3 linked regions of the Homo sapiens genome follow. The protein of the gene in region 2 interacts with the protein of the main gene of each other region in a biochemical or structural test. Each region holds a gene or a part of one and is shown on either strand. Other genes may lie near its edges.

The links.
Region 1: the proteins of XRCC4 (region 2) and APLF form a complex in vitro, tested with the Homo sapiens proteins (one study listed by IntAct).
Region 3: the proteins of XRCC4 (region 2) and AATF form a complex in vitro, tested with the Homo sapiens proteins (one study listed by BioGRID).

The regions. Positions count from the first base shown.
Region 1 is NC_000002.12:68,510,540-68,521,119, reverse strand, and holds part of APLF (aprataxin and PNK-like factor), read right to left. Parts: intron 8,041-10,580; coding exon 7,893-8,040; intron 7,573-7,892; coding exon 7,440-7,572; intron 1-7,439. UniProt on the Homo sapiens protein: Histone chaperone involved in single-strand and double-strand DNA break repair.
Region 2 is NC_000005.10:83,197,213-83,207,792, reverse strand, and holds part of XRCC4 (DNA repair protein XRCC4), read right to left. Parts: intron 4,242-10,580; coding exon 4,086-4,241; intron 2,979-4,085; coding exon 2,872-2,978; intron 1-2,871.
Region 3 is NC_000017.11:37,047,598-37,058,177, reverse strand, and holds the end of AATF (protein AATF), read right to left. Parts: intron 5,924-10,580; exon of another isoform or gene 5,016-5,923; intron 1,578-5,015; coding exon 1,514-1,577; 3' UTR 1,307-1,513; downstream 1-1,306. UniProt on the Homo sapiens protein: Part of the small subunit (SSU) processome, first precursor of the small eukaryotic ribosomal subunit.

The sequences.
Region 1 (10,580 bases), on a different chromosome or scaffold from region 2:
AGAACTCAACCCTTTACAATAGCTGCAAAAAAACAAACAAACAAAACAAAAACAAAAAACAAAACAGGAATATACCTAACCAAGGAGGTAAAAGACCTCTACAAGGAAAAGTACAAAACACTGCTGAAAGAAATCATAGATGACACAAACAAATGGGAACATATCACATGCTTATGGATCGGTAGAATCAACATTGTGAAAATGAACATACTGCCAAAAGTAATCTACAAATTCAATGAAATTCTCATCAAAATACCACCATCATTCTTCACAGGACTAGAAAAAACAATCCCAAAATTCATATGAAACCAAAAGACAGCCCAAAACAAGTCTAGCCAAAGCAATACTAAGCAAAAGAAACAAATCCGGAGGCATCACATTACCCGACTTCAAACTGTACTACAAGGCTACGGCCAGCAAAATAGCATGGTACTGGTATAAAAACAGGCACATAGACCAACAGAATAGAGAACCCAGAAATAAAGCCAAATACTTACAGCCAACTGAGCTTTGACACAGCAAACAGAAATATAAAGTAGGGAAAGGACACCCTATTCAACAAATGGTGCTGGGATAATTTGCAAGCCACATGTAAAAGAATGAAACTGGATCCTCATCTCTCACCTTATACAAAAATCAACTCAGTATGGATTAAAGACTTAAATCTAAGACCTGAAACCATAAAAATTCTAGAAGATAACATCAGAAAAACCCTTCTAGAAATTGGCTTAGGAAAAGACTTCATGACCAAGAACCCAAAAGCAAATGCAATAAAAACAAAGATAAATAGATGGGACTTAATTAAACTAAAAAGCTTCTGCACGCAAAAGAAATAATCAGCAGAGTAAACAGACAACTCACAGAGTGGGAGAAAATCTTCGCAAACTATGCATCTGACAAAGGACTAATATCCAGAATCTACAAGAAAAAACAAATCAGCAAGAAAAAAGCAAATAATCCCATCAAAAAGTGGGCTAAGGACATGAATAAACAATTCTCACAAGAAGATATACAAATGGACAACAAACATATGAAAAAATGATCAACATCACTGATTATTAGGGAAATGTAAATCAAAACCACAGTGCATTATCACCTTACTCTTGCAAGAATGGCCATAATTTAAAAATCAAAAACATAATAGATGTTGGTGTGGATGTGGTGAAAAGGGAACACTTTTACACTGCTGGTGGGAATGTAAAATAGAACAACCACTACAGAAAACCGTGTGGAGATTCCTTAAACAACTAAAAGTAGATCTACCATTTGATCTAGCAACCCACTACTGGCTGACTACCCAGAAGAAAAGAAGTCATTACATGAAAAAGACACCTACACATACATGTTTATAGCAGCACAATTCGCAATTGCAAAAACATGGAACCAGCCCAAATGCCCATCAGTCAATGAGTAGATAAAGAAACTAATATATATATATATACATATATTTATATATATTACTTCATGTGTAATTTTTTTTTGTCAATAACATCTCTGTATGTGTTGATCCTCAATTTGCAGGAAGGAAATGGGGAATCGTAGTGGGGAGGGGCAGACACTTTCCCTCAGTAGAATAATTTCTCTGATAAAAGAAAGACTTAACTTGACCAAAAATTGAACCAATGTGAACTGGTCCCTGCAAATAACTCCTTTTCTTTCAGAATTGTTTTGTACTGCAACTGCTTCTTTGCTACTGCTTATAATAGTTCAACATGTATTTCATTTCAAATACATTTTCTTTCACTTGGTAGATGTACCACTTAAAATATGAATCATGTTTTTGGGCACTTCACTTTGAAAATACAAATGAGAGTAATTTGACATTTTATATATACAATATACATATAATATATTATATTATATATAAATGATATATAATATATAATATATTATGTAATAAATATAGATAATATATATTTATATATTATAAATATATAGTCACATTGGTCCAATTTTTGGTCAAGTCTTTATATATATATAAAATGTCAAATTATATGTTTTATATATTATATATTATATTATTATATATTAATTATATATTATATTATTATTATATATTAATTATATATTATATTATTATATATTAATCATATATTATATATTATTATATATTAATAATATATTATCAGATATTGTATATTAATAGCATATTATTATGTATTATTAATAATATTATATAATATATTAATATTAATGATATATTATTATTTTATTATATATTAATGATATAATATTAATATTTTATTACATATTAATGACATAATATTAGTATTTTATTACATATTAATGATATATTACTAATATTTTATTATATGATAGATTATTAATATTTTATTATATAATGATATATTATTAATATTTTATTATATATTAATGATATATTCATGATATATTAATGATATATTATTGTATATTCATGATATATTAATGATATATATTCATGATATATTGATTTATTATATATTCATGATATATTAATGATATATTATTATATATTCATGATATATTAATGATATATTATATATTCATGATATATTATTGATATATTATATATTCATGATACATTATTGATATATTATTATATATTAATATATAATATAATAATATATTAACATTATTATATATTATTAATGTTATTATGTATTATTAATATGTTATATAATATATAATATATTATTATATATTATATAATAAATTATTATATAATATATAATATATTGTTATATATTAATAATATAATACAGTCATATATTAATATATTGCTATATTAATATATAATTATTTATTAATATATTATATATTATTAAATAATATATAATATATTAATATATTAATATTATATACTGATATATTATCTATTCATAATATATTAACATTATATATTAATGATCTATTATATATTAACGATATATTATTATATATTAGTAATATATATTGATAATATATTATATTACTATTATACATTAATAATATATTATTATATATTAATATATATTAATATTGTATATGATATATTATATATTAATATATATTAATATTATATACTAATGATATATTATATATTAATGATATATTACTGTTATATATTATTATATATTAGTGATATATTACTGTTATATATTAACACATATTAGTGATATATTACTGTTATATATTAACACATATTAGTGATATATTACGGTTATATATTAACACATATTAGTGATATAATACTGCTATATATTAACACATATTAGTGATATATTACTGCTATATATTAACACATATTAGTGATATATTACTGCTATATATTAACACATATTAGTGATATATTACTGTTATATATTAACATTATATTAGTGATATATTACTGTTATATATTAACAGTAGATATTAGTGATATATTAGTTATATATTAACATATATTAGTGATATATTATTGTTACATGTTAATAACATATTAGTGATATATTATTGTTACGTTAATAACATATATTAGTGATATATTGTTACATGTTAATAACATTAGTGATATACTGTTACATGTTAATTACATATATTAGTGATATATTGTTATATGTTATTAACATATATTGACATATGTTAATAACATATATTGATATATTAATATATAGTGATAACATATTGATATATTAATATATAGTAATAACATTGATATATTAATATATAGTAATAACATATATAGATATATTAATATATAGTAATATATAGATATATTAATATATAGTAATAACATATATTACTATATGAATATATTATATAGTAATGATATATTAATATATTATATAGTAATGACATATATTAATATATTATATAGTAATGACATATATTAATATATTATATAGTAATGACATATATTAATATATTATATAGTAATGACATATATTAATATATTTATATATATCAATAACATATATTAATATATTATGTATCAATAACATTATTATATATTGATATATTATATATCAATAACATATATTAATATGTTATAGATCAATAACGTATTATTATATATTAGTATATTATATATTAATAACATATTATATATTAACATGTTATATATTAATAACATGTTATTATATATTATATATTAATATATTATTATATATTATATATTAACATATATTATTATATATAATTATATTATATTATATTATTATATATTATATTATATATATTATATTATATATTATATATAATGTTATATAGGATATATAATATATTATTATATTATATATAACATTATATATAATTATATATATTATATATATAAAACGTGATGCCTCCAGATTTGTTCTCTCTATATATATACAAATACACCATGGAATACTACTCAGCCATAAAAAGGAATGAAATAATGGCACTCGCAGCAACCTGGATGTAATTGGAGAGCATTATTCTAAGTAAAGTAACTCAGGAATGAAAAACCAAACATTGTATTTTCTCATTTATAAGTGGGAGCTAAGGTATAAGGATGCAAAGGCATGAGAATGATGCCACAGACTTTGAGGGCTTGGGAGGAAGGGTCGGGGAGTGAGGGATAAAAGATTACAAACTGGGTACAGTGTACACTGCTCGGGTAATGGGTGCACCAAAATCTCAGAAATCATCACTAAATAACTTATCCATGTAACCAAACACCACCTGTTTCACAAAAACCTGTTGAAATAAAAAATATATATATAATAGTGATGATAATAATAATAATAAACTGTATTGGCTGAAAAATGAAAAAGCCTGACAACAGCAAAAATTCCCCTACATATAAAGGATTAAAGAGTTAAACTGAGAGATGATCCAGGAGAGATCGCAAGGGCAGATCAAAAAAGGCAAACAAAAACCAAACATATAAAGAGTAAATTTAGGCAGCTATACAGTGATATGCCTTAGTACATGGGCTTTAAAGTTAGTCAGAGCTAGGTCTCAGTTACAGCTCTGGCATTTATTATATGATCTTGGATAAGTCAAATAACATGAATTCATGTTATTTGTCCTGTTCCTAAGGATTCCAAAGGTTCCAAAATATCAAGTTAGTTTCAGATAATCTACATAAAGACCAATAACCACAGTTATGGTCCTAAAGCTGCAAAAGACATATGAAAGTTACTCATGTCTGAATAAACCAAAATGCATCCTGCGAATTAATTTTTAAAAATCTCTCATATTGGCCTATTGATCCCCATCATTTATTACTTAAACAAACAAAACAATTTTTTAAAAAATAACAGCACCACAGAATAAGTCTAATTGTTTTAACTTTTAATTAGCAGGATTCAGGTACTAAACTGTTCTAAAGTACTAAACTGTCTTTAAAGGAATTAAGTAACCTAATCTTGTTCTTATAAAGTACTTCTCCCACGGTCTTAGTTTATAAAAAGATTACCTGAATCCAAAGACTCTTCTATCTTATTTTGAAGCTTTAGCATTTTAAGTACATTGTACACATGCGATATTCCAGACCAATGTCAAATTACTCTCATTCGTATTTTCAAAGAGAAGTGCCCAAAAACGTGCTTCATATTTTATGTGGGACATCTACCAAGGGAAAGAAAACGTATTTGAAATGAAATACATGTTGAACTATTATTATAAGCAGTAGCACAGAAGCAGTTGCAGTACAAAACAATTCTGAAAGAAAAGGAGTTGTTTGCAGGGACCAGCTCACATTGGTCCAATTTTTGGTCAAGTTAAGTCTTTCTTTTATCAGAGAAATTATTCTACTGAGGGAAAGTGTCTGCCCCTCCCCACTACAATTCCCCATTTCCTTCCTACAAATTGAGGATCAACACATACACAGATGTTATTGCCTATATATATATATATATATTACACATGAAGTAACTGTGGGGGTGGGAAGAACTGAAAACAACTGTAGTAGAATAACTTACTGCAAAAGTCTTAGGCTTAGATTGGAAAATTCTCCAGATTAAACCACATGCCCCTTAACACATAAAGTATAGTGCACTTTTCCCATGAGAACACTTTGATCCTAGTATAATCCAAACTACCATTAAATAAGATATATTCTGTACATAATATATGTGATCCAAAACTTTAGAAGACTTCTATGACCACTGTGCAGAATACACAAAGCACTGAGTAGTAATTTTCTAACTAAAATGTGTATTCATTTGTGCTGTTAATTTTTAAAAAACAATGTTCAAGGTAAAATGGAAAAACAGCATAACTAAAGTAATTACTGCCAATAAAATCATTGTAAATTCAGGAAAAAAATATTTTTCAAACTATCTGTAGGCACTGGAGATTGACCAAAGAGGCAGAGTTGGAGAAGTGTCAAGGTTGAAAATTAACTATAATCTATAAAGTTTGTGAACTTGTGACTTTTTTCCTGAAGGCCTTCTCCAAGTCACACGTGGCAGAAAGCTGCAACCTTACTGGTTTAAATGGTCAGAGCAGAGAGTTTGAGGCTAGGAGAACAGGCAGAGGTGAGTGATAAAATCCTGGAGGGAAGGCAGCCACAGAAGGGGCAAGAGCAAAAACCTACATAAAAACTTGACCCAAATTCTTGGCTGACTCCTAAACTACATTTGTATGGGGCCCAAGGACCCAGAGAAAAACGCAGCAGCTGGAAAGTGAAGGAACTACCTAGACACTGCAGCTGCCATACATAACAGGGGAAACAGGGTAGGCTCTGAATCCAGCCAAATTAATTGCTATCAGAACAAAAATACTTCTTCAGAGGAACATAACAAAATCAAGAGCCTCTACAATGTATCATCCATAATATCCAGTATCAATAGAAAATCACTAGGCACAGAATACACAGGAAAATGTGACCCCATAAAAGAAAACAAGCAGTCAATAAAAACTAAGTCTGAAATGGCAAAGTTGTACGTAGATGCAGACTTTAACGCAGCTATTATAAATATGATCAAAGACTTATAGAAAAATACACCAAATGATTGAATAAATGGGGAATCTCATCGGAGAAACATAAACTTACACAAAAGAACCAAAGAGGAATTCCAGAACTGAAAAGTACAATAACTAAAATGAATAATTCACTAGATAGACTTAACAGCAAATTAGAGATGGCAGAAAAAAGAATCAGTAAACTTGAAAGTATATCAATTCGTCTGGCATTTTTAAAAATCAAATTAAACCCTCTTATTGTGCTGGCCTTTTATCCTAGACATAGCACCAAGAGGTTTGTTTGGAAGTCTTTATTAATATAATTCTAGCACATAATAGCACTTGTTAAATGAAAAAAAATTAGGGTGGTATTTGATAAATGGCATAAAGTAATAGCCTATGTTTTAGACTTCATGTTCACAACTAAAAAAACTAGGCTAGGCTATACACTTACACAACCTCTACTCTATCTCTATAGAACTAGTTTATAGTTTTTCTTCAGAAAAGCTTTCAAATTCTGTTTAATGTTTCCTTTAAAGTCAGCATTAGTAGAAACAAAAACCTACCTCCACTGATTGCTGGTACTGAAAGGTTTTGATCACTTAAATGTTCTGCTAACATCCAAGTTGGAAGGATTCTTTTCCTCTCGGCAAGGATTGGCTGCTGCTTATTGCAGTCTCTATTTTCACCTAGGAAAGACTAAAAAGACACCTATAAATTACTAAAAATAATCACACATCTTGAATGAATTTGCAAAATATCTGCTTTGCAGAATACTACCATTAAAATACCCATATGCAACTGTAGACTGAGTTCATAAAATTTCTTGAACAAAGAAATTATTTCTATTAGTTTAACTGTTGGATTACTGCCATATTCTCTAGAGCTTAACTTAAAATCAGCAAAAGTAGATAAATGCTGGCAATATTGTCATAATAGGCCTAATTTCAGTTGTCTTTTCTGCCTTCATAATAACTTGAAGAACATGTTATAAATGGATGAGATATCAAATTTCTCACCACACTATTTGTGGGAGTCATCTGGGTCTTGGCTATTTCTGTGCTTCCTTCCAGTTGTGAGGCACCAGTAGTCTCATGAGGTAAATTAATCACGGGGGATTTTGGTGTTTCATTCAATATATTATCTTCATCAAGCACTTGACTGTTTCTATAAGATAAAATAGAAACTGGTCTTTAATTTTAAATTTAACACACTTCTGCTGCCTTAGAACTACATCTAAGTTATGTCCCTTTACTCAGACTTAGCAAAACCAAAAAAAGCAGATTATAGTATACTAGAATATATAGACTAGAATATGTTCTTTATTTCCTACCTGCTGTATTGCCATAAAATACATCAATCTTTCCAAATCATGGGCCTAGAAACCACAATTATTTTTGAGATGTGTGGCAGCCATTTCTGTCAAGGCTTAAGAGCTCTTTATTTAATATTTGTCCAGATGGTCCACAGAAATTAAGATCACCACCCAGCCTCTAGAGAGATAATGTAAACTGCAAGGGCATCAGCTAAGCTAGTTAGACGTTTGGAGAAAAAATAAATAAAATCCTGAGTTTAAGTTGACACATAACTGCTACTGAAGTTCAGGGAAGTATTAAAGAGCTACTTATGAAATATCCCCAAACTTGTAGTATAGCTGCAAGCTAAATGTTCTGGAACAGGAACATCCATGGTCACATGTGGGACATGCCAGCAGAACCAATTACCTCATACTTCTGCAATATGCAGTAAGGTCATCCAAAGTTGTTGGGTTATTAATACTTATGTATGCATAGACATGATCCAACGAATTTGTCTTTTCGAAAATTTGAAACTATAGATGAAACACTACTCAGAAATAACAAGGAATGAACTACTGATGTGTGCAAGAATATAGATGAATCCCAAAGGCATTTTGCTAAGTGAAAGAAGCCAGACACAAAAGGTATATTGTATTACTCCATTTATATGACATCCTGAAAGGTAAAGTTACAGGGACAGAAATCATATTAATGGTTGCCAGGGATTGGGGGTGGAGTGAAGGGACAGACTACAAAGAGCCAGGAGAGAACATTTGGGGAAATGGAAATGTTCTATATCTCACTCTAGTAGTATTTTAAATGACTATATTATCATTTTTAGTGCATTGAATTGCACATTTAAAAGGGATGAACTCTACTGTGTGTAAATTGTCCTCATTAAATGTGAATTTTTAAAAACTAAAGATATAAGATTTTAGAAGTGTGTCTAGCTGAGAAAAGTCTAATTAACCGCTTGTTTTATTTGTTCGTTTTAGTATTTCTTATACAGGGAATAATCTCCTTCAAAGGCAGCCTTCAATGTCAATGGCAAGAATCAGCCAAAAGAGAAAATTTACTTAGAGTAAATTACTATGCAGCATCACATTTTTTGTTCATTCAATCAATATTTTTAAAACTTCTACTGTGTGTCAAACACTGTGCCAGGTGCTGGAGACATATCTTGGAAATGTCTGATTGTCCTAGCTATGAAAGTTCACTCCACTACAATACCCAGTCCTGTTTTACTCACAGGTTACAGGTGTACTTCCAAATTATAATTTTTTTCAAGTTTTCTTAATATTTAACATGAAAAATATTAAGAAACATTCAATAGTAGTTTGATGATTTTTCACAATTTATAGTATTAGGAATTAAGTAACATCATCAATTCCATTTCTAGTTTATTTTCTATTGTGGCATAAGTCTGAGATGAATTCATATACACTCTATAGTCCATATGTAATTTTTATTAATAGTTACCCACAATAAACGTAACAAAAAAAATTTCAGAACAAAATTCTATTTAACATTTTATTCAAAAAGTACAAGTACAAATTATTCTACTACACATTTATTTAAATATAAAACACTGTCACTGTGATATATATTTTTATTTTATCTTCAAATACATCTATGAGTAATCAACTATCACAGGATTTATAAAGCATCACTACAGAATATTTTAAATAAAAAATTAAAACTTGGAAAGTTAAATGTAGTCTAGTAAAGGTAATTGAGTTATCCTTTTTTATAACTGCTTTATTGAAAAATAATCCATATAGTCATAAGATTCATCCTGTTAAAGTGTACTATCCAGTGGTTATTAGTATGTTAACAGAGTTGTGCAACTATCACCAATATCTAATTTTAGAACATATTCAACACCTCAAAAAGAAATTCCATATGCATTAGCAATCTCTTCCTATTGCCTCTTCCTCCTGCTCCTCGCAACCATTAATCTACCTTCTGTCTCCAAAGATCACATTTTCTACATATTTCATATAAATGAAATACAGTATGTGGTCTTTCGTGTCTAGCTTTTTTACTTAGCATAATGTTTCAAGATTCACCTGTGTTGTAGCATATGTAAATATTTCATTCCTCTTTATGGCCAAATAATATTCTACTGTATGACTATACAATACTTGTTTATCTATTCAACAGTTGCTGGACAGCTGAGTTATTTCCACTTTTTGGCTATTATGAATAATGCTGCTGTGAACATCTATGTACAAGTTTTGATGTGGACATAGGTTTTCAATTCTTTTGGGTATATACATAGGAGTGGAAATGCTGAGCCACACAGTAATTCCATGTTTAAACTTTTGAGGAACTGCCAGAATATGTTCCAAAGAGGCTATACCATTTTATAATCCCACCACAATGTATAATAGTTCAGTTTCTTCACAA
Region 2 (10,580 bases):
GAAAGCTGTGTTCAACAGAATTATCTCTCATGGACTAAAAACATATTTTGTCTCTGTAGAAGAATTAATTGTGGAAACTGGTAAATTATAGGGTGGCCCATTTTGTTGTTTAACATCTACAATTTTCTTTCTCAGATCTATGAAATCTAGTTCTTGATTCAGTGTCAAGCATTTGAGATGAGATTTATTTTTCTATTTCAGTCAGCATCTGTTTCCTAAACATTTCTTTTTGCAGCAGAAGAAAAAGGGTAAAGTTCTATTATGCTATTAATTCTTGACATCGAAAACTTACTAAAAGCAAGTTAAATGCAAAAATAAAAAATAAAAACAGAGACCTATAGATCATATGTGTAATGAACTAGATGTGGGCTAAAGAAATAAAGACACGTAAAATAGAGAAAGAACATGAAATAAACTAAACATTTCTGAAGAGAAAGGAGAATTTTGCCAAATTGAAAATAGTACAATTGTAGCTTAAAGTTTTACTTAAAATAGACTGAACACATAAAAGTCCTCTTTCTCATATAGCCATATTTAACCACGTATTTTCTCATCAATAATTTTCACCTACTTCAAATATTGGTAAGATACTCTGACTAAGAAACAAGACCAAAGGTCATTGTATTTAATAAAAATTCTGAAAGTTTAAACTGGAAAGAGTACAAATTATCTTTGTAAGTTTTTCTCTATTTGATTATTAAATAATAATTTCATTTTAAATGGGACACTAGGGTAAAACAAGCATAACTGCCAAGTGAAAAGAAATTTCATTCCCAAGTGCAAAAGTATGATTGTGTGTGTATTGTGTAATCCAATTCAAATCTGATTAGAATCAGATGAATCAACCAGTTTAATCAATGTTAATAAGTTTCTGTGACTGCAGTTAGATACTTTCCTGTGCCTTCATCTGTTTATTCTACCTTTTCTCCTGTCATTATGGGGAGTGACTATGCTCCTGGCTAAACTAATCTACTACTTGTCCCTTGGATCCCATCCACTTATATTTTTAGAGACAGATTTCCAGTAGTTTTTCCTCTGTCTACTGCCTTGATGGTTTTACCTGCTCTCTTTAGTTACTCTCATCAGTATACAAACATATTCTTTCTTTTATTTAAAAACAACAAACAAAAATACTTTTCTTTATCCTACTTCCTCCTCCAGCTGCCGCCCCATGTCTTTCCCATTTTTTACAGTGAAATTTGTTGAAAGTATTGCCTGTCTCATCTCCAGTTCTCTCCTCCCATTCCCTTTGAAACTCCTATTCTCTCCTATCCCCTTCCTTCACCAATCCAGTGAATATGTTCTATTAAGATCCTTAATAACGTTTGTATTGCTAAATCCATCAATCAGCAGGATACCACATTTATATTTTTGCCTCTTACCTCCTGGCTGCTCCTTCTCAGTCTTATTTGCTCAGTCATAACCCCTTCATCAGCAAATCCTGCTGCCTCTAAGCACACCTAGAATCTGCTCCTTGCTCATCGCCTCTCCATCACTCTGGTCTAAGCCAGCCTCATCCTTCACCGAATTGTTGTACTAGCTTCCCATCTGTTATATCTTCTTCTGCATTTGTCATCCTATAGTCTATTCTTAACACAATACACAGACTAATCCTCTTGAAATTTGAGTCAGATTATGTCACCTGACTGTTTAAAATCCTTCAGTAGTTTCCAAGTTAATTCAAAGTAACAGGAGAAGTTCTAATGGTAGCCTATATCGCCCTACACGTGATGAGGTCCCATCATCTCTCTCATCTCATTTCCTAATTCTCCCAGTCTTCATCTTTCTACTTTATCCAGATTACACTCTATAGTATTGCTTAAACGCGTCAGGAACTTTGTACTTAGTGTTTTTTTGTTTTTGTTTTTGTTTTTGTTTTCTGTTTGGCATGGTCTTCCCCAAGACAGCATGTCACCTTCACCTTCTCACTGAGGCCTTTTCTGATAGTCTGGCTAAAATCATAACCCTCATCCTTATTCTCACCCTGACCTTTCTAACGCCTTCTCTGGTTTATTTTTCTCTTTAGCACTTATCAACCTAACATATTTTATATTTATTCATCTTATATGTTTCCCTGACTACAATTTAAACTCCACAATGGCACAGATTTTTGTGTTTTGCTGTCTAATGCATAGCAAAGTTTCTAGTACATAATAGGAACTCAAAAATATTTTCTAAATAAATAAATCAAGCATTTATTTTAATAGTATTGGTTTTAGGTCAAAACCATCTAAGTATAAAATGAGTTCAGAGGCTCCTGTTTCCACCGTCACTAGGAAATCTATAAAACATTTTAAAAAATAACTCATGGGTTTAAACACTTGCTGGGAACTTGATCCAAAGGACTGAGTAAGTCATAGGTACTTTGTACTAAACTGCCATTTTTCCCCTTCTCTTTTCCTCTATTACATCTCACTTGTTGCAATCTTTTTTCTGAAGAGTGAAAGAAGGCCTCAACTTCAGTATAATTTAGAGCATTCTTGATTACTCTGCTCCAGTGGCCTATTCATGGCTTTAGCTAAATAAGATCTCAAATGTTAAAGGCAACCAGCTTTAAGCTGATGATATTTAGCATAAAGGTGTTTCTTCCTCATTGCTTATGCTTTTCCTGGTTATATTTAACCAGGAATAGTATACCTTGGAGTATATGTGTATGAATGCTTGCTCACACTGCTGTGCTAATGAGTTGCTGCATTTTACAAATAATATTAAGTTTTAACATTAAAAATTTGAGTTTTTAAAATAAAAATGCTAAAGAATTTTCATAGAATAAGGTCTTTCACAACATTTTTCCATTATGGTTTCTTGTCATTAGAATAAGAAGCCCAAATAAGATATTCAACAGAGGAGATAAATGTATGTATCTCTTACCTGAAGCCAACCCAGAGAGATCAGTTTGGTTTTCACTTTCCTCATCAGTACTCTCATCATAGACTGGATCTCGGTCAGCAGTCATTTCAGAACAGATTGCAGTTTCCCTAGAAACAGAGAAAGGTAGAATTATAAATAACTGGCTCACCCCCTGCTAGGCAGCAGATTTATCAGTAAGCAATTATAGAAAATATTCCTAGAAAAAGATTCTAATTAGACAAACATATTGAAAATATATATGATTTAGATGAAAGCATCTTAAAACCTATATATTAACTCTCTTAAGAACAAGTTTCTCTTTTACCTAATTTTAATCTGAATTTAGTACTTATTATAATTAATATTAAATCAGTTTCTTATCAGGTACTATTCTTCCATCAAAATACTTTTTCTAACAAATTATCTCTGTGAGTCACAGAGTATTTAACATTTTACTAATCTCAGAACAGTTCGCATTTCATTTGATCTCTGCAAAACCCTAAGATGGGTATCTTTACCTTTATTATGAAGATAAAGTGACTTGTCCAAAGCTATAAACTAATAGGTATGACTGCAAGACCAGTACCTGTGCTAGGACTAGCTGATATCAAATTTTTTTATACTACGTCACTGGTAATTCTGTACTTCTACTAAGATTCAAAGCAACAGACCCTAACTTGTATTTGCTAATGCGTAAAAAAGTTATAATCGTCGAAAGCCGTATCAGCCATTTGTCACTTAGGATTCTTCCATAAAAATCAAGTACATATGTACTTTCAGAGAATATGTGAAAGAAGAATAAAACTGATAATCACACTCTAATCAGATAAAATAAGTGCTCCCTGGAATTTAATATTAACCACTTGATTCTAAAGTTAATCATTGCCTAGACATCAAGATTACAAATATGCATCCAACTTTTGTAGTTCTGCAGATGAAAGTTTTTTTTTAAATTAGTATGTCTTACTAATGTCTAAGAATTAAATAATACTTTAATAAGCCTCATGTCAGTTTTTTAATTTAAGTGTAGGTGACACAGTTGAGCAGACATAGAGAGACCATGCTGAGAACTCTCTAGCCCATGGTACCCCTATCTAACAGCCTGAACATCCACATCCAGACTACCAAATTATCTCATATGATCAAAAAGTTGGCATCTAATGTTCATTAACTTTGGGAAGAAATTCCACTTAAATGTATTCATCTGTCATCCAAAAACAAGATAGCGAAAATACCCTTCTTGTTTGATGTCCTTTTCTCGTTCTTGAGCTGCATTTAATAATTTATTATGCAAACTTCTGATTTTTGTTTTCTTCTCATTCAACACCAGAATAAACCGCTTATAAAGATCAGTCTCCAAAGCTTCCTTAGCACTCACACATTTTTCAAATCTAAAAAAGTAAATAAGTAAACAAATTAGTCATGCAGTTCTGCTTAGCATTAACATAATTCAGCCTAATAATCAAGAAGATTTCAAGGAAAATACAATTAAAGATTATTTTCACATATGCTTTCACTGACTTGGAAGTTTTATAAAGATGGTTAAATACACAATTAGAAATTATTGGTTATTAATGTAATTTATTTACTGAGATAAGGATCAAAATTGAAAACTGATACAAATAAGCCTTTAGAAAATCAAAATGCCTAAAGATAATTTATTGATACATATGGTTTATTTACAAAAGAATGTTTTTATGGGATAAATTTCAAACAAGAGTAAATGTAGCCTGTTTCCTCAGTACTATGTTAATATTACTATAAAAGCAACTACAATCTTATTTTGTGATAAGGCAACATAGCTAATTTGTCTGATTTATCTACTAGACAACAAACTGCTCCACAACAAGAACACGACTTATCCAGTTATATTCTTATAAGCGAGCACCACACACACACACACACAAATACATATAGAAATGCAATACACATACCCAATGAAAGTATTCTACTTGATATATTCAAGGAGAGATTAATAAAACAGCAAATGTAAAACACTACATATCTTCAAATTTAGATACGTAAGACAAAACATACAAAATTCTCTATTGTTTTTAATTCATCCCATACTGCTCAAATGAGCTAACAAGGGATTGTATTTATTTTAAGCTCCCAAGAGATATATAAAGAAAGCAAAATAGCTGAGGTTGTATATACTTAATATATGCATACACATACATGATGAATACATTCCTATTTTATTGATTCAAATACAAATTATTTTATGTATTCTTTTCAATGTTGTTTCATACTGCTTATTTACATTGTTGTTGTTTTACAGGTATCCTAGTATTTTTATACTGTACATAAACACACACACACATATATACCAGTAGTAATATATATGTGTGTGTACATATATAGACACACACATATATATTTCAGTGAAATTAGAAACACAAATGTCCAAATTAGATAGCTTTTATATACATGCCCTTAAACTTTCAACAATCTACCTATCTAGAGATGCAAAGAATTAGAACGTATCATAGGATAAAAAGGAAAATATGGCAATATATTCTCTGGGACCAATTTCAGCAAATTCTTACAGCACAGTCTTTGCCAAAGATGTGAACTCCACGAAAGCAGACAGCATGTGTGTTTTATTGGCCACTGTATCCTCAGTGCCCAGCATAGTGTTTAGCATTCGACAGATGTTTGGTAGGTTCTTATTAGACAAACGAATAAAGTGAATAAATTAATATGGACATCTTTTTGGTTTATTTATTTTCCCAGTGGTTTATTCGTTTTCCCAGCTTTTCTGCAGAGTTATTACAAGGCCTCAACAGTGCTTTAGTTTTTCTTTTCAATATCCTGTTCTGCAGCTTCCTTGGTCCTTTTTGCCCAGAGGCCAAAGAGCCAGGCATTGATATGGCAGGTTTTTTGTTTTTTTTTTTTTTGAGACAGACTTTCGCTGTTGTTGCCCAGGCTGGAGGGCAGTGGCACGATCTCCACTCACTACAACCTCTGCCTTCTGGTTTCAAGCGATTCGCCTGCCTCAGCCTCCCGAGTAGCTGAGATTACAGGCACCTGCCACCATGCCTGGCTAATTTTTGTACTTTTAGTAGAGACAGGGTTTCACCATGTTGGTCAGACTGGTCTCGAACTCCTGAGCTCGTGATCCATCTGCCTCAGCCTCCCAAAGTTCTGGGATTACAGGCGTGAGCCACCGCACCTGGCCTGACGTGGCAGTCTTGAAGTTCTCTTCCTCCTTGGTGATGACTCTGGCTTTCTCCTTCGTATAGGTATTTCATATGAACATTACCGGTCCTGTCAGTGTGATGGCCAATTTGAGTTCTTCAGTGTAGCTGTCTCTCTTCTCGGAGGCTGAGGTTTCTAGAGAAGGAGGATAAGCTTCCAGCAGTACTCCTACAGCTGTTATACATTGGCCTGCAGGGACTCAGTAGACTTGTCTCACCTCCTTGGATCAATAGAGAAATCAATGGTCCAGGCCATCTTCTTGTGGATGCTGGCCACCCTTAATTCTTCCAAGCTGAAGCCCCTACCAGCTTGTACTTGGTGTGAAACCTCATGTGGGGCATTTTACTAGGGGCCAGTGGGTCCAGATACAAGGCACCGGGCAATGCAGTGGGCTTGCCCAGTCCCATGTCTGTGGCTCTTCCTTGCAGGCTGGGTGAACCATATTGCTATAGGCCACTGCCAGTACTTACAAAAGTGGGGCTTCAGGATTATGCCATTCCTGCTGGGCACCATGGCTGACTATAGCCCTCCAGCAAAGAAGAAGAGCCAAGGAGAATGGCTAATATTGACATCTTATAAGGAAACAGAAAAACAGTGATTCCGAATATTGTATTTTTTCCCTCATTTAATAGCTATTCACCATTGTAAAAGTAATGTTTTTCATCTTCAGCTTTTAAAAAAACTGTGGCAAATAATATCAATCTAACAGTATTCCCTTCATTAAGCAAAGTTCTCTGAGAAAGAAGTACACGAAAGATGTTAGAAAAAAACTGAATATTGAAAAGGAGCTAGCAATATTGATAGTTTATTTTAAGCAAAGACATGTCACTACATTTATATTTCAGATTCAGTGTTACGTAAGCATGATATTCTTATCTTCCTATAATATTTTCAAAAAAACACAACAAAAAACTTTAAAACATACATATTACTGAAATACCTGAGTATATAATAACATACTTCAAACATATGCAAAGTAAAAACCAATATGTGAAAACATATAAACAAATATATTACAATTTCTTATATTAAATTTTAGGAATGGTAACCAATTAGTAATTTATCTGGTTTAAGTCCATATTTAATTTCCATATAAGTCACTTCAATAATTCTTGATTGAATGATGATGTGTACTTAACAACTAACAAGCTAATTCCCAAACCTTTATTAAAATTAACATTTGGTATGACACATTCAAAGTGAAAATAAATATGAAAATGAAATATCATATAATATTCCTAAAGAATATTGTTAATCTTAAGTAACCAGTATCAGATCTATGTTGTCAAAGGAAACATTTCTGTGACAGGAAAACACAGTCAATAGAATGAATGGTATCATGTGAGTTAACCTTGCTTGGTTTCAGCAAAGCTTTAGGATTTTTTTGCAACCAAACTTCTGATCATCAAACTGGACAACACTTCCTAGAAAAGTGGGGGAGCGGGAGCTGACTGGAGAAAAAGTATTAGTGTGAACAGTTGCATGACATGAATTTACTCTTAACTTTTAATTTTTCAAGACTCAGAGAATGCTATCCTTTTATCCAATAATCAGTAACTAAGAGGTATGTCGTATCATTCCCACCTAATTTTTAATGCCAATCCTCTCCTAGAGCATTATGATGTTACTATGCATTCCATTACGTGCTTCCTGTCAAGCTTATGCCTCAAGAAATTGGACAGGAACTGTTAGGTGAGAACATTTAGTGGAGAAGAGACATGGGATTCACTGCTAAGTCTGGTGACACTAACAAAAAGCCCATGTACAACTAGATCAGACCACACTAGTCCAAGGATCAAATCCAGGCAAATCTCAAATTGGGACGAAATCACAAATAACATCAAACAAGAAAGGTCTAATGATACTTCATCCTTTCTACAATAACTAGGAAAACAGAACAATAATGCTAAATTTAATTAGCAACCTAGCACTGAGGTATCTAAAACCTTGGACAAAAAAATAGTAATTTTTTTTAAAAAATTAAAAGGATAAAAAAATACAAAAAAATACTGAATATTCAAAATAAAATGTCTCTGGGTGGGAAAACAATCTAAGAATAACATGTCAAAACAATAACAAACTAGGAGGAAAAACACAACAATTTCATGCAGAAATAACACCAAAAATGAAACAACAGATTAAATGATAGCTCAAAATAAAATAATAGATATATAAATGTGAACATATGGTATTTAGACACAGTGCAGTAATCCTTAAATTAATAATCAGTTCTGGCCAAAATTATATCTGGCCCAGGTCAGGGTTGTATGTCAAAAGAAAGTCTGAATAGAGTTGGGAAGACAAAGAAAGCTAAAAAGAACTGGAAAAGCAAGCAGTGGTAAAGAGATTTAATAAGGCTTTAAGTACGGAAAAAGATGGTGAACAGCTGTTCCTCATCCTTTCTGACAAGAGAACAAGAGGAAATGGCCTTCAACTATACCGTGAAGGATTCAGATTACCCATAGATGGAAGAAAGAATTTTCTGACTGCGACAGTTCTTAAACACTGTAACGGGCTATCAAGAGGAGATGAAGATATCTCTTGAGGTCTTTAAAAATCGGACTGAATTCATCTGGATATAATGTGATTGTATCTTGAAGGCAGAGAGATGAAGTAGAAGAGCTTTCAAGGTCTTTTATTTTGATGATTCTGTGAGTGTCAACCCAATTCCCTGAAAACTGCCTCCAATTATGGGTTTAATAACTATAACTCAGAATAAAGGCAGGTAATTTCTAAGTAGAGGTCTGAGTGCAAACAAAACACCTATTCAGTAACATGGAACTTGAGAGTTTTTATTTGTAATTAAGTAGAAAACCCATGAAATAAATATAGCCAGTAACCTAAGGATTCACGTACACATCTTAAATGTTTCCTCCTTTATCTACACTATACAAAATTAATCCACTGATGCCACTTGTTCAAAATGGAGCCAAGAACACAATTATTAAGTGGTAATTAAAAATAACAGCAAATATATATGTTAAAATTCTATGCATTAAAGCTCACACTTTTTACTTATGCTGTAATTTCTCATTCCTCACTCAAGTGTTTATTCTCCACCATCATCCCAAATGAAAATAGCTTTATAATTGTTTGATTATAATGGTGATACATATTTAAATACTAAAACATATACAAAAAATACTCCCCAAAATTAAAGGAAAATGTAGTCTACAATTCCAGATATACACTATTAACATTTAATTTTCTTCTTCCAGATACTCTCTATATAAATATATTTTTTTGCAAACAATGGGATATTGTTTATATTTGTGGTGATGCACATCTCACCTTAATATATGATCAACATTTTCCATGCTAATAAACACATGTGTACACAACTATTTTATTCTCATATAATATCCTATGGGGTAGTAAATGTATCTCAGACCCATCTACCATCGCTTCTATGGGAATTCCCATCCCTTACATTGTGTCCTTCCCCACTATTTTAACACCACCCTCCCATCCCTTCATATGTAGTATAGAAGAAATGTTTGGATCATGAATGGACACTGACCCAAAAATAATCGGAGGCTTCCCCCAAAATTAACTATTGCCAGGCTTAACATCATGGCCCCAACTCTAATGATTCTCTACTTTCTATGTCCCCAGTTACCTAACTCCATATGCTCATGTCCTATTTCTAATCTCCCTAAAGACACTTAATCAGAACTACTGCCTTATGGAAGCTAAAGCTGTAAATCCTTTCCAGCATGCAAAGGCTCTAGTGAGGGAACACTAAGAAACTGCTGCTTGGCCATGATCAAGATGTATTTACAGCTCCTTAAAGTGGCCTCTGTCCTCTGAAAGGAAAGAAAATCAAATTTGGGAAATATTTAAAGCTACTAATCTAAGATCTGGAATACAATAAAGAGACTAGAATTCTCTGGAGTGGACTCTCTTTCCTCTCAGGACATAGGGCCACCCACTGGCACACATCTATAGACCCTGAAGAAGACATCTGACACAGTACTATCAAAAAAATAGCTGGATCATAATAAAGCAGGTGACAGGGTACATGGCTGTGCTTTTGATCAAACAGGAAATCTCTTCACAACAAGACAAAAGCACTTGCTGGATAGTCCAGAAATAGCAAATCAAGCATCTGTGAGCCACATATAATATGTGCCCCTCACACACACTGTTACAGCACAGGGTGCATTTGTCTCTAATTCCCCATCTTCGTTCCCTGCTGCTTTCAATTCTATGGGAGTGGTGTTGAATACTGATGAGATAATACCTCTTTCAACCTCTGGCAGACATTTTAAAGCAATTTGTTCAAGTACCAAGTACCCAGTCTGCATTTTTGTAGGCAATTTGTGGATCAAATTTCCTATCATCCTGAGGGTATTCTGAGTTTTAAATATAATGGCTTATCACGACCATAGCACATCTCCTTTAATTTGATTTATTTCACATATTAAATAGAAAATACACCCAAGCTACAGATACAGGTCCAAGAAATGCTTTGTAGTACAGATATCTGATACTGATTCATACTATCACATTGAAATCATCTTTATGAA
Region 3 (10,580 bases), on a different chromosome or scaffold from region 2:
TCTCTAAATAAATAAATAAATAAATAAATACATACATAAACAAATACTTCCTCTGACGTGAAACTGTAGTCTTTGACCAACATGTCGCATTCCCTGCTCCCCCACCCCCCTCAGCCTCCGGTAACCACCATTCTACTCTTTAGTTCCATGAGTTGGCCTTTTGTAGATTCCACGTATAATTGAGATCAGGGGGTCTCTGTCCTTCTGTGCTTGAGTCATTTCACTCGGCATAATGTCTTCCAGTTCAACCACATTGTCGCGAGTGTCAGAATTTCCTTCTTTCTAAGGCTGAATACCCCTTATCCATGTAAGAAACCCAAAAGCAAGAAAACAAATAACCCATTTCAAAAATGGGCAAAGAATCTGAACAGATATTTCTCAAAAGAAGACATACAAATGGCCAACAGGCTTATTAAAAAATTATCAGCCCCACTAATCATTAGGGAAATGCACAGAAAAACCACAACGAGGCCGGGCGTGGTGGCTCATGCCTGTATTCCCAGCATTTTGGGAGTACGAGGTGGGCAGATCACAAGGTCAGCAGTTCAAGACCAGCCTGGCCAATATGGTGAAACCCCGTCTCTACTAAAAATACAAAAATTAGCTGGGCATGGTGGCGAGCACCTGTAATCCCAGCTACTCAGGAGGCTGAGGCAGGAGAATTGCTTGAACCTGGGAGGTGGAGGTTGCAGTGAGCCGAGATTGTGCCGCTACACTGCAGCTCGGGAGACAGAGCAAGACTCAGTCTCAAAAAAAAAAAAAAAAAAAAAAAAAGATAAAAGAAAAAAAAAACCACAATGAGACATCACCTCAGACCTGTTATAATGGCTACTATCAAAAAGATGAACCCCTAAAATGTATACAACTATTATATGGCAATAAAAACTTTTTTTAAAAAAGATGAAAGTTAACAAGTGTTGGTAAAGACGCGGAAAAGGGAGCTCTGGCACGCTGCCGGGGTGAACGTGGACTGGTACAGCCATTATGGAAAACTGTAAGGAGTTACTAAAAAAACTAAAAATTCAACTATCCTACGATCAAGCAATCCCATTTCTGGGTATATATACAGATCAACGGACATTACTGTGTTGAAGGGACACCTGCACTCCCACGTTCATTTCACCCACAACAGCCACGCTATGCAAACAATCTACATGTCCGCCAGGGTGAGTGGGTCAAGGAAACGTCAAGTCTGACATTGTATGAGGAGGCCACTGGACTAGAAAAAAAAAAGCTCAGTAAATGTGTCATCCACTAGAACCAAACCAGACTGACTCTCAGCCTCTTAAGAAATCACAAGCGGTGGTGGCGGTAACAATGCTCTTTATTTGTGGCGTTTAAAGGCGGGGTTGGGCGGGACAGCGCCCTTGCGTGTATTAGGCACAGGTTCGGAACGCAGCATCTTTCCAGGGGCTTCCCTACTAGCTCAGCCCCATAAAGTCACTGGTTTCCTCCATCTGGACCAGCAGCCGCACCAGCCAAGGCGCCCACTGGGTGTCGGAGGTGGGCGATGTCAATCCCCGTGGCCTTCGTCGGGAGGGTGGAGCTGGCCAAAAAGAGAGCGGTACAGTTCTGTCCTAAAAGACAAACACAGCAAACTGGTTAACACACTGGTTCACTATTCAAGGTTAAAAAGGAACGCAGAAGCTGGAAAATACCCCATTCTGTTTCTTCTGTTGAAAACACAGCCATGTAATTAAAAATGCACCCCACAGCTCTTACTCACAAATACAACAGAAGGAAGAAACCCAATCAAACAGTAAAATATGTAAATGGTCCAGTGCGGCTGGACACCCGTCTCCAGGGAATGAGTGTTCTGTAAGTTTGCCCTTTGCAGACAGGCTCTTCAAGTAAGAAAACAAGATTGAATATTTTAATAGGATGTAGGAGACCGCCATCCGATGAGGAGGATTCAATCAGACATGGGATGTAGGGGGATATAATTTAGTTTTCATACATTTTCTTGGACTTGGCAGTACTTGAAAAACAATGAAAATGAGCCAGCAACACGATTCCAATTACTATCATCTGTGCAGTTGTTCAGGAAGAGAACCAAGCTTCTTCCACACTCCCCAGCTGCCCTGTCTCTATTCTCAGTCTAATAAATAATATGATTGGCTAATTTATTTCTAAAGTTGGGTTTTGACATTAAAACAATAACATGCCAGGGTCTTGGGCCCCTAAAAAGAAAAGTAAATGACCACTTTCAAACTCTTTTAAATGCAACATACACACAAACATCGGCCAAAGCCATGTGTCAAGGCCTGGAAAACCTAAAAGGGGTGTGGGTGGGGCAGGGATCTTTCCTATCGTTGAGACAGAAGCTCCAGAACACTTTCCCCTGTGGATACAGAGCAGATCCTCCCTGCAGAGACATGAGGGACCCATGAGGTTCCAAGCAGGCAAGACCCGTGTGAGGACGTCCCTGTCATCAGGGAGGTGGGCGTGTAGCACGTGGCCGCAGAGGCAGCCATCCATGTCCACGCCCTGCAGAAGGCCCAGCCGGTAGCCCTCACAGAGACAGGGCAGGCGCACACAGGGCTGAGGTCATGGGCCAGGAGCCCCAGAAGAAATCTACACCTGCTCGGATATTCTCAAGATGGAACTCAAATTCCAGCCTGCCGTCTTGTTTTAAAAGTGCTCTCATCATCTGAGGGTCAGCATCGGCACATCAGACTTTAAAAGCAAAACCAAAAAACCCCACCTTTCAAACAGCAAGGCTTCAACACAAAAAACTACTGGTCTTTTTTTGAAGTCACCCTACTATAGTTATGGATAGGAATAAAGGTACTACAATTAGGAAATCCAACAAAAGGAATAGAGTATCAAAGCTTTAAAAAAGTCAAAAGAAAAACATCTTAAGGAAGAACTACAGAAGCCACAAATGTAAGCTAGCCTTATCATGTTGGGGACCGCGGGAGGGACAGGCAGTGAAAGTGCAGGCCAGAAAACAACAGGCCTCCAATTTTATTACAGGAATTTTATCCCAAGAATGTGCTGGTGCCTTCACCCTGAACTACCCAGCAGACCCCTAGGCCACAGACAAAGGACACAGCTTCCCCCTTGGCTCCACCCATCTCTTCTGCTCTTCTGTTACACACATCCATGTGACTAGCCTCAATCAGCCCAGACGAAGCCTGCCAAGGTGGACGGCAGCCCCAGACCAAATGCAAACCCACGGCTTCCAAATCAGCAGCTCCGTCACACGGATACTTCGGTGCCCAGGGCAGGCTCCACTTCATCACACCATGGCCTGCCTATTTGCCAGTAAAGACAAGTCTCTCTAGCTGTTTCCACACAAAAAATTAAATGGCGTGAAAGGGAGAGTTGCCATAACAAAAGGACAGTGTGACTTTAGGACAACAACGTCTGATGAGAAAGAAATGCAGAGGCGCGAGGCTAGCCCTTCACATCATACCCTTTCCAGCCTCGCCGCGCTTGCCTGCACCAGACCCCATCATTACCACTGAGCAAATGCTTCCACTCTGCGCGCAATATCAGTGCAACGCCTGGGCCGAAGGCAGCAGTTACTGTCCGCAGCAGGGTTCACGTGTCAGGAGCAGAGAGTGAAATGCTGAAACCCATGTTTTCATAGAACATCATTTCACACTCAGGTGGGCAAAGCTGACAAACATATGCAGCTGTTCATGGCAAAGCAACCTGGGAAGCTGAGTGGTCTGGGTTCTTAAAATATTTTCAGAGAGAGAGAATATCAATAGGGGATTATTTCAATCTAAAAGTCCCCAAGCAATTTCAACTTTTACATCTTCCTCACCCACTATCACCAGCTGGTGACCGTTTTTACCTTCAAAGCATCTCAAACTTCACAGCTCCTCCAGGCTTCCACTAGGTCAGATCTCACCGTTTCTCATGAAGCACACAGCAACAACCTCCTGGCTGACTCTTCCACTCCCTTCTCTGAGACAGACAAAGCAGACCCTCCCTGGGGCCCAGGAGCAGCATGGGGATGAAGATCCCCGCCCCACACGCCCCCCACCAGCCACCCCCACTGTAGATTCCAGCGGTTCAGCTTGGCCTCAGCCCTTCCTCTTTCCAGGTCCTGGCTTTGGCTCCTGCCCTGAGCAGCTGGGTGGTACAGGGAGGCACAGCCCTTCCTCCCTCTTTACTAGGTTGGAGAAGGTAGGGTTGCACATTTTTATAACGTTTTTCACAGTAAGTTTAAATAGTTACAAAATATATAATGACCAGGATGTTGTGAAAATTAACTTTTGTAATGCCTGCAATGGAACCTACATGCCATAATGATTTGATACTCATCGTTCATTCAAGTAACACATAAACTATTTTTTTTTGAGATGGAGTCTCGCTCTGTCGCCAGGCTGGAGTGCAGTGGCGCAATCTCGGCTCACTGCAACCTCCGCCTCCCGGGTTCAATCGATTCTCCTGCCTCAGCCTTCCAAGTAATTGGGACTGCAGGTGCGCACCACCACGCCCGGCTAATTTTTTATTTTTAGTAGAGACGGGGTTTTACCATGTTGGCCAGGATGGTCTCCATCTCTTGACCTCATGATCTGCCCGTCTTGGCCTCCCAAAGTGCTGGGATTACAGGCGTGGGCCACACATAAACTTTTTAACTTGGACATTTTATAGCACCTTTTTCTTTTTAAATTTTATTTCCACCTGACTTTTCCCTACAGAGTTTTGTCCTAATATAATGGTTTCATGCTTGAATGTCTTTTATCAATCACCCTTATCATACTTCTTGGCCACATTAGTCTGTAAATAAAAGCACTTTTGAAATTTTTAAAATTCAAAAAATTGAAATGAAAATATTTTAATTGTTTGACATTATAAGGCTCTAAGTAGTTTAAAAATGTTCCTCTGGATTATTATTAGGATATAATCAATATATAATAATATGATATAATATATCCTAATTTTAGTGAAAATTTAGTATTCATACATGTGTAAAATGTTATTAGAAATGCATCCCTTAATGATATGGATGAGGCTTTTCCCTCCATTTGTTCATGGATCCATGGAGGAATATTATTTATTGCCAGAATGAAGGAGGGTTCAGCATCAATTCTACTCCTATTTTTTTGTTTTTTGTAGACATAAGCACTGAGAAATGTTGTCATATAAACAAGCAGATAGGAATGACAGAGTTCTGGCATAGCAATGCCACTTGATTCTTTTTGCTCTTTCTGAATTATACAGCACACACAAAAAATCGCACAGTGACTCGTCCCCAAACATTAGTCCTAACGGTCAACCAACTGCCAACTCAATTCAACTCGTGTTCTCCAGCGATTCTGCTGGAAGTGAAGACCCAGAAACCACCCGGCCTGCACAGGGCTTGTCCTCTAGTCCTTAGGCGTTTGCTTTCTCAATCTCTGTACCCATATTTCCAGCTGTCCTTGGGTTTGAGGCCCTGGAGGTTTTCCTGTGGCAGCCCGAGGTCCATGTCACTTTAAGGAGGGGCTCGAGGGAGGCTTTTCAAGGCCAGAGAAGGACGAGGGTAAAAGGACAACCTAGCCCTCCAGCACAGGCCTGCTCTGGGGCAGACAGCTTTAGGAAAGAGCGTACGTCTGAAGACTGACTCCTTGACTATCTGTGTCTACCTTCCCCTTGGAAAGTCTCTGCATACCCCAGTGTGAAGACTGAGCCACAGGGTGCACTGAGCTCTTCCTCCCTCAAACCTAGGCAGGTGTCTAGGTGCTTAGGGAAAGGCAAAGACATCTGAAAAGAAACAAAACATGTCCACAGCCCTTACCCCATCCCAAGAAAAACTGCAAGTAAAGACGAGGCTACAAAAAGGTGCCACTGGACAGAGGGCCAGACCGCCTTCCACTGCATAAACATTTCCCCCCGGCTGCATCTTCCTAACTGGGATTTAGCCATGTGGAGAAGCTAAACTATCAATCCTCCAGGTTAACCTTGTTCCATCAGATTCTCCAGGGTAAGTGTGTAGTTTCATACCTGAGGTCCCCTTAAGGCTATGCATAATCAACTTTTTAAAAAAACACATAATTCCTGCTCCCCATCACATTAAGAATCAAGATGCAAATCACTGATCTGTAATACCCCCACCCCCCAGCACACACACACTCATGGTCAGTGGGAGTGTCCACTGTAGACAATGCGTTCATGCTGGTATCATGCAGGGGAGCAGCCTGCGGAGTAATTAACAGGACTTGGACCTGAGGTAGAAGGTCGATAGCAGGGGCTCTTCCTTGAATTAAAATTTAACTTACCCTTTATTGCAAACTACAAAAGCAAGTAATGAGCACTAACATTTTTATTTCTTTTAAACTGTCATTAAGCTGTAGAGGGGATAATTACCTATCTCTAGTGCAGTAAGGTTTTATAACCCTTAGTGAGGCATTTTCTAATTTAATATTTTTACTATATTATCTTAAAACCTGTTTCTAGAAAAAAAAATGATCATGGATTAGCCGCCATTTTCCATAAAGACAGAATGTGCGTGTGTGTGTGTGTGTGTGTGTGTGTGTGTGTCTGTCTGTCTGTCTGTCTGTCTTAGGATTCGGCTTATTTATTATGTGATTCTTCTGAAGAGACTTAAAGTATGCACATTGTAGCTAGCTGTGAACTGCAATCACTTGAGTGGCAGGTAAGGTTTTAAAAGCTCTGAGTGAAATGGGGGTGTATGTGTATGAGAATGCAGCCCCTCACCGATGTGTGGACCCAAATATGTTCCTTTCAGTTCCACATGTGCACTCACCCCACCACAATACAGATCACTGTCTTTCACGATGTCACTTGGGCAAACAGTACAAAGGAGCATATTAAACCTGCAAATAATCTGTGTGGGGCTTTCAATTTGCTAGGTCAGTAGCTTGCAGCACTGGGGATTCTGAAGGAATTGTACCATCCACTCTACAGAAAACCACACTCCTCCTACACTGGCCCTGGAACCCCCAGGCCTCCAAGACATCCCTGAGCTGTACCTACCCACAAAGACAGGTGGACAGCAGAGAGAACACAGCCATTCCACTGCTCCCCGAAAAAGCCTGTGCAGCCTCCCAAAGCGCATCATGGTCTCCGAGCAAGTATTATGTGCCAGTCTTCCAAAGGAGCTGGCGGAGACAATGCTGCTGCTTTCCAGACGAAAAGTGACTCATAGGCCAGGTATGGTGGCTCATGTAATCCCAGCACTTTGGGAGGTTGAGGTGGGAAGACCACTTGAGCCCAGGAGTTTGAGACCAGCCTGAGCAACACAGTGAGACCCTGTCTCTATTAAAAATAAATAAATACATAAAATGATACACATAATTTGCCTTTGACTAATTAAAAATTGTTCATTTGTTGCTTCTTAGGAGTGGGGGGTCTCCCTAAATACATAAGACACATCCCAGAATGTCATGGCCCTTCCTTCCTTTCTAATCCTCTACCTCTCCCACACTGCACACAAAAGTGCTGTAGCATTTGCTTCTGCCTTAACTCAATCCCATACATACATTGCAGAATCAAGGGAAAAGAAGAAAGCACACGGCAGGCAAGTCGGACAAAGGGTTCCAATCATAGCAGCACTCACGGCTAGCAGGGTCTGGATCCGATCTGAAACCCTACAAGTAGAGTCTGCCCAGATATGGTCAGTCAGCACAGAGATTCACACACACGCCTGCTCTGCACAGACCAGCGCGGTCACCAATGACAGATGTGTGCTTTTAAAATTATTGGTGATGTACTGATGCTGCCTTTTTTCACGTTTGTCTTTGAAAACAATTTGCTTAGTGTGGTGGAAGCTTAAACATGTACTAGATGTATATGATTCCTGGCCTCAAAACCTAACATACTACAGGTATAATCAATTAATTAAAAATATTTGAATGCTTATTTGAACTTTGTTAGATTTTGTGGAGGTTCACAAAGACATGAAAGGCACAGCAGAAGCTAGATCGGGAAGGTGAATACATGCAGTAAGTGTGTCTCAGACAAACCACTCCATTTGGGGAGACACACAAACATTCTTCCTCCTGCTGAACCCAATTCTGTCATTTTAGGACTTACAGCCATGGGCTCTTGTCCCTCTAAAGCCAGAGAGAAGTAAGGCTGACTACTATTCCCTGTGGCAGCACTTCAACTATTTGATGTCTTCTTCTAACTAAATCTGTTCTTTTCCGGGTTCAGCGGCCTCAGTTGCCTCCATTCCTCCTGTGACCGAGTCTGCTTGCCATCCTGACTGCACTCCTATGAGCCCTCCATTTGCCAAAGCTCCAAAAGCAAGGTCTCCAGAACCCGCAGCCCTCGTGAGCCCAAAGCAGGTGGAGCAGGACTCCATCTCTCCTGCACTCTGAACACATACTTCTCTCTCTGTCTTCCCAAGGCCTCCACTCTCTTCTGTTCTATCTATCAGTATGCCCAGGGCCTCCCAAATGTCTGCGGAAAAAGATGTCTTGCCAATTATCACTTGGCACATGCTAACGGCACCAAACAAAGGGATCCTTCTCCAATAAAGCACGTGCCTCCATTCTGATTGCCAGAAACCAAAGTAGGCCAAAGGGCAAAGGCTACTCACTCCTCCATTTTCCTCTTAAAAATGTCTACAGACCACAGGACAGCAGCTTTCCCTTTTTTTTTTTTTTTTTGAGACGGAGTCTCGCTCTGTCACCCAGGCTGGAGTGCAGTGGCGCCATCTCGGCTTGCTGCAAGCTCCGCCTCCCAGGTTCACGCCATTCTCCTGCCTCAGCTTCCCGAGTACCTGGGACTACAGGTGCCCGCCACCACGCCTGGCTAACTTTTTTTTGTATTTTTAGTACACACAGGGTTTCACTGTGTTAGCCAGGATGGTCTCGATCTCCTGACCTCGTGATCTGCCCGCCTCGGCCTCCCAAAGTGCTGGGATTACAGGCGTGAGCCACCGCGCCCGGCTTGGACAGCAGCTTTCTTTTCTTATATACTTAGAGAAACCAGCTTAATAGAAATCTTGAATAGTTAAATAGAACAAGGCGAATGCTTTTATATGGCATAGAGCATGGTATCACAAATGCAGAGGGGCTGGAAGGTGCTGTCAGAGTTGGTTCTGACTGGCTCAGGTCCTTACTGGGTCTAGGACCTTAGGTAAATTACTTAGCCCCCTGAATCTTAGCTTCCTCATCAGTAAGATGGTGACAATATCTTCCTTAAACATACTGTTTTTACAGCACTAAGCAAAGTCCGCATTGCATAAATGGCATCGTCATCTATGATCATGAGAAATGGAATGAGACAGAGCAACATGCTGAGGACCTGTGTGCATGCATTACAGTTGCTCCCAACCAACACGAGGGACTAAATGGCACCCTCCTTTCATCATTCCTTTGCTTTCCCCGACCCAAATTCATCCTACTCGGTATCAGTGACTTTACAAATGAGAGAAAGATATTTGAGAAGTGTCTCTATGACCTAAAAGGAGAAACATACTGATCCAAATGGCAGGCAATCGCCCTGTGCTCTTTGGGGCTGTGTGGTAGGGGCAGCCCTATGTATGTCACGGGAATGGGCTCAGACACAGGTGACATGCATTAGAACTTAGCTCCTCAAGGCTGGGCGCAGTGGCTCACACCTGTAATCCCAGAACTTTGGGAGGCCAAGGTGGGCGGATCACCTGAGGTTAGGGGTTTGAGACCAGCATGGCCAACATGGAGAAACCTCGTCTCTACTAAAAATACAAAAAATAGCTGGGCGTGGTGGTGTGTGCCTGTAATCCCAGGTACTTGGGAGGCTGAGCCGGGAAAATCACTTGAACCTGGGAGGCGGAGGTTGCAGTGAGCCGAGATTGTGCCATTGCACTCCAGCCTGGGCAAAAGAGTGAGACTCCATCTAAAAAAAAAAAAAAAAAAAAAAAAAAGAAAAGAAAAACTTAGCTCCCCAAGAAGGCTGGATTGCTGGGAAAGTAATCCAAGTAAAAAGACACAGTGCTGATAAGGAGTTAGTATTTAGTCAGAATGACACAAAAATCACTATAGTAGAAAACTTAGGATTTCTGAATACGGCCAAAAAGTCGGTACTTACTCTCCCTCACTCTCCTCTTAACATCCCCCAACAACCCAAGGAGGATCACAGGCTTCTCTCCTGAAATCTCATCATAATTCCATACCAAAAAACAAACCAAAACTGAACAACAACAAAAACCCCCATAAAAAAACCACAAAGCAGAAGAAAGGAGGTAAAGGGGAAAGAAAGCAGTCTTCTTTCAGCTAAGACTTATTTCTTAACAGGATCAACTTAGCAAAATAAGAATGACTCAGAGACACCCCTTATCTATCACTAATTACCTAAATCTAGATACAAGGCAAATCATGTCCAATCCGACACTAGCTGAAACTCTTCACAAGGTTCCAAAACAACAAAACCGCAGCCGCCCGAATCTGCCACAAGGTGGCAGTACACGACTCGTTTCCAAGTGGACCCAGCCACCAGTCAGCGGAGCCCATAAATTACCCCGTGTGTCTGCTCTCATCACCATCCTCCCCAGTGCTTGAAGGAGACTCTAGAAGGTCTGTTCCAATTCGTTCTTTTGGTCAGGTCAGAACTAGGTCCTTCAAACCTCTGGAAAAGCTTTTAGCCCTACAGCTCTAAATTACACATGGTGACACACGGCCTCTGGCCTGTCC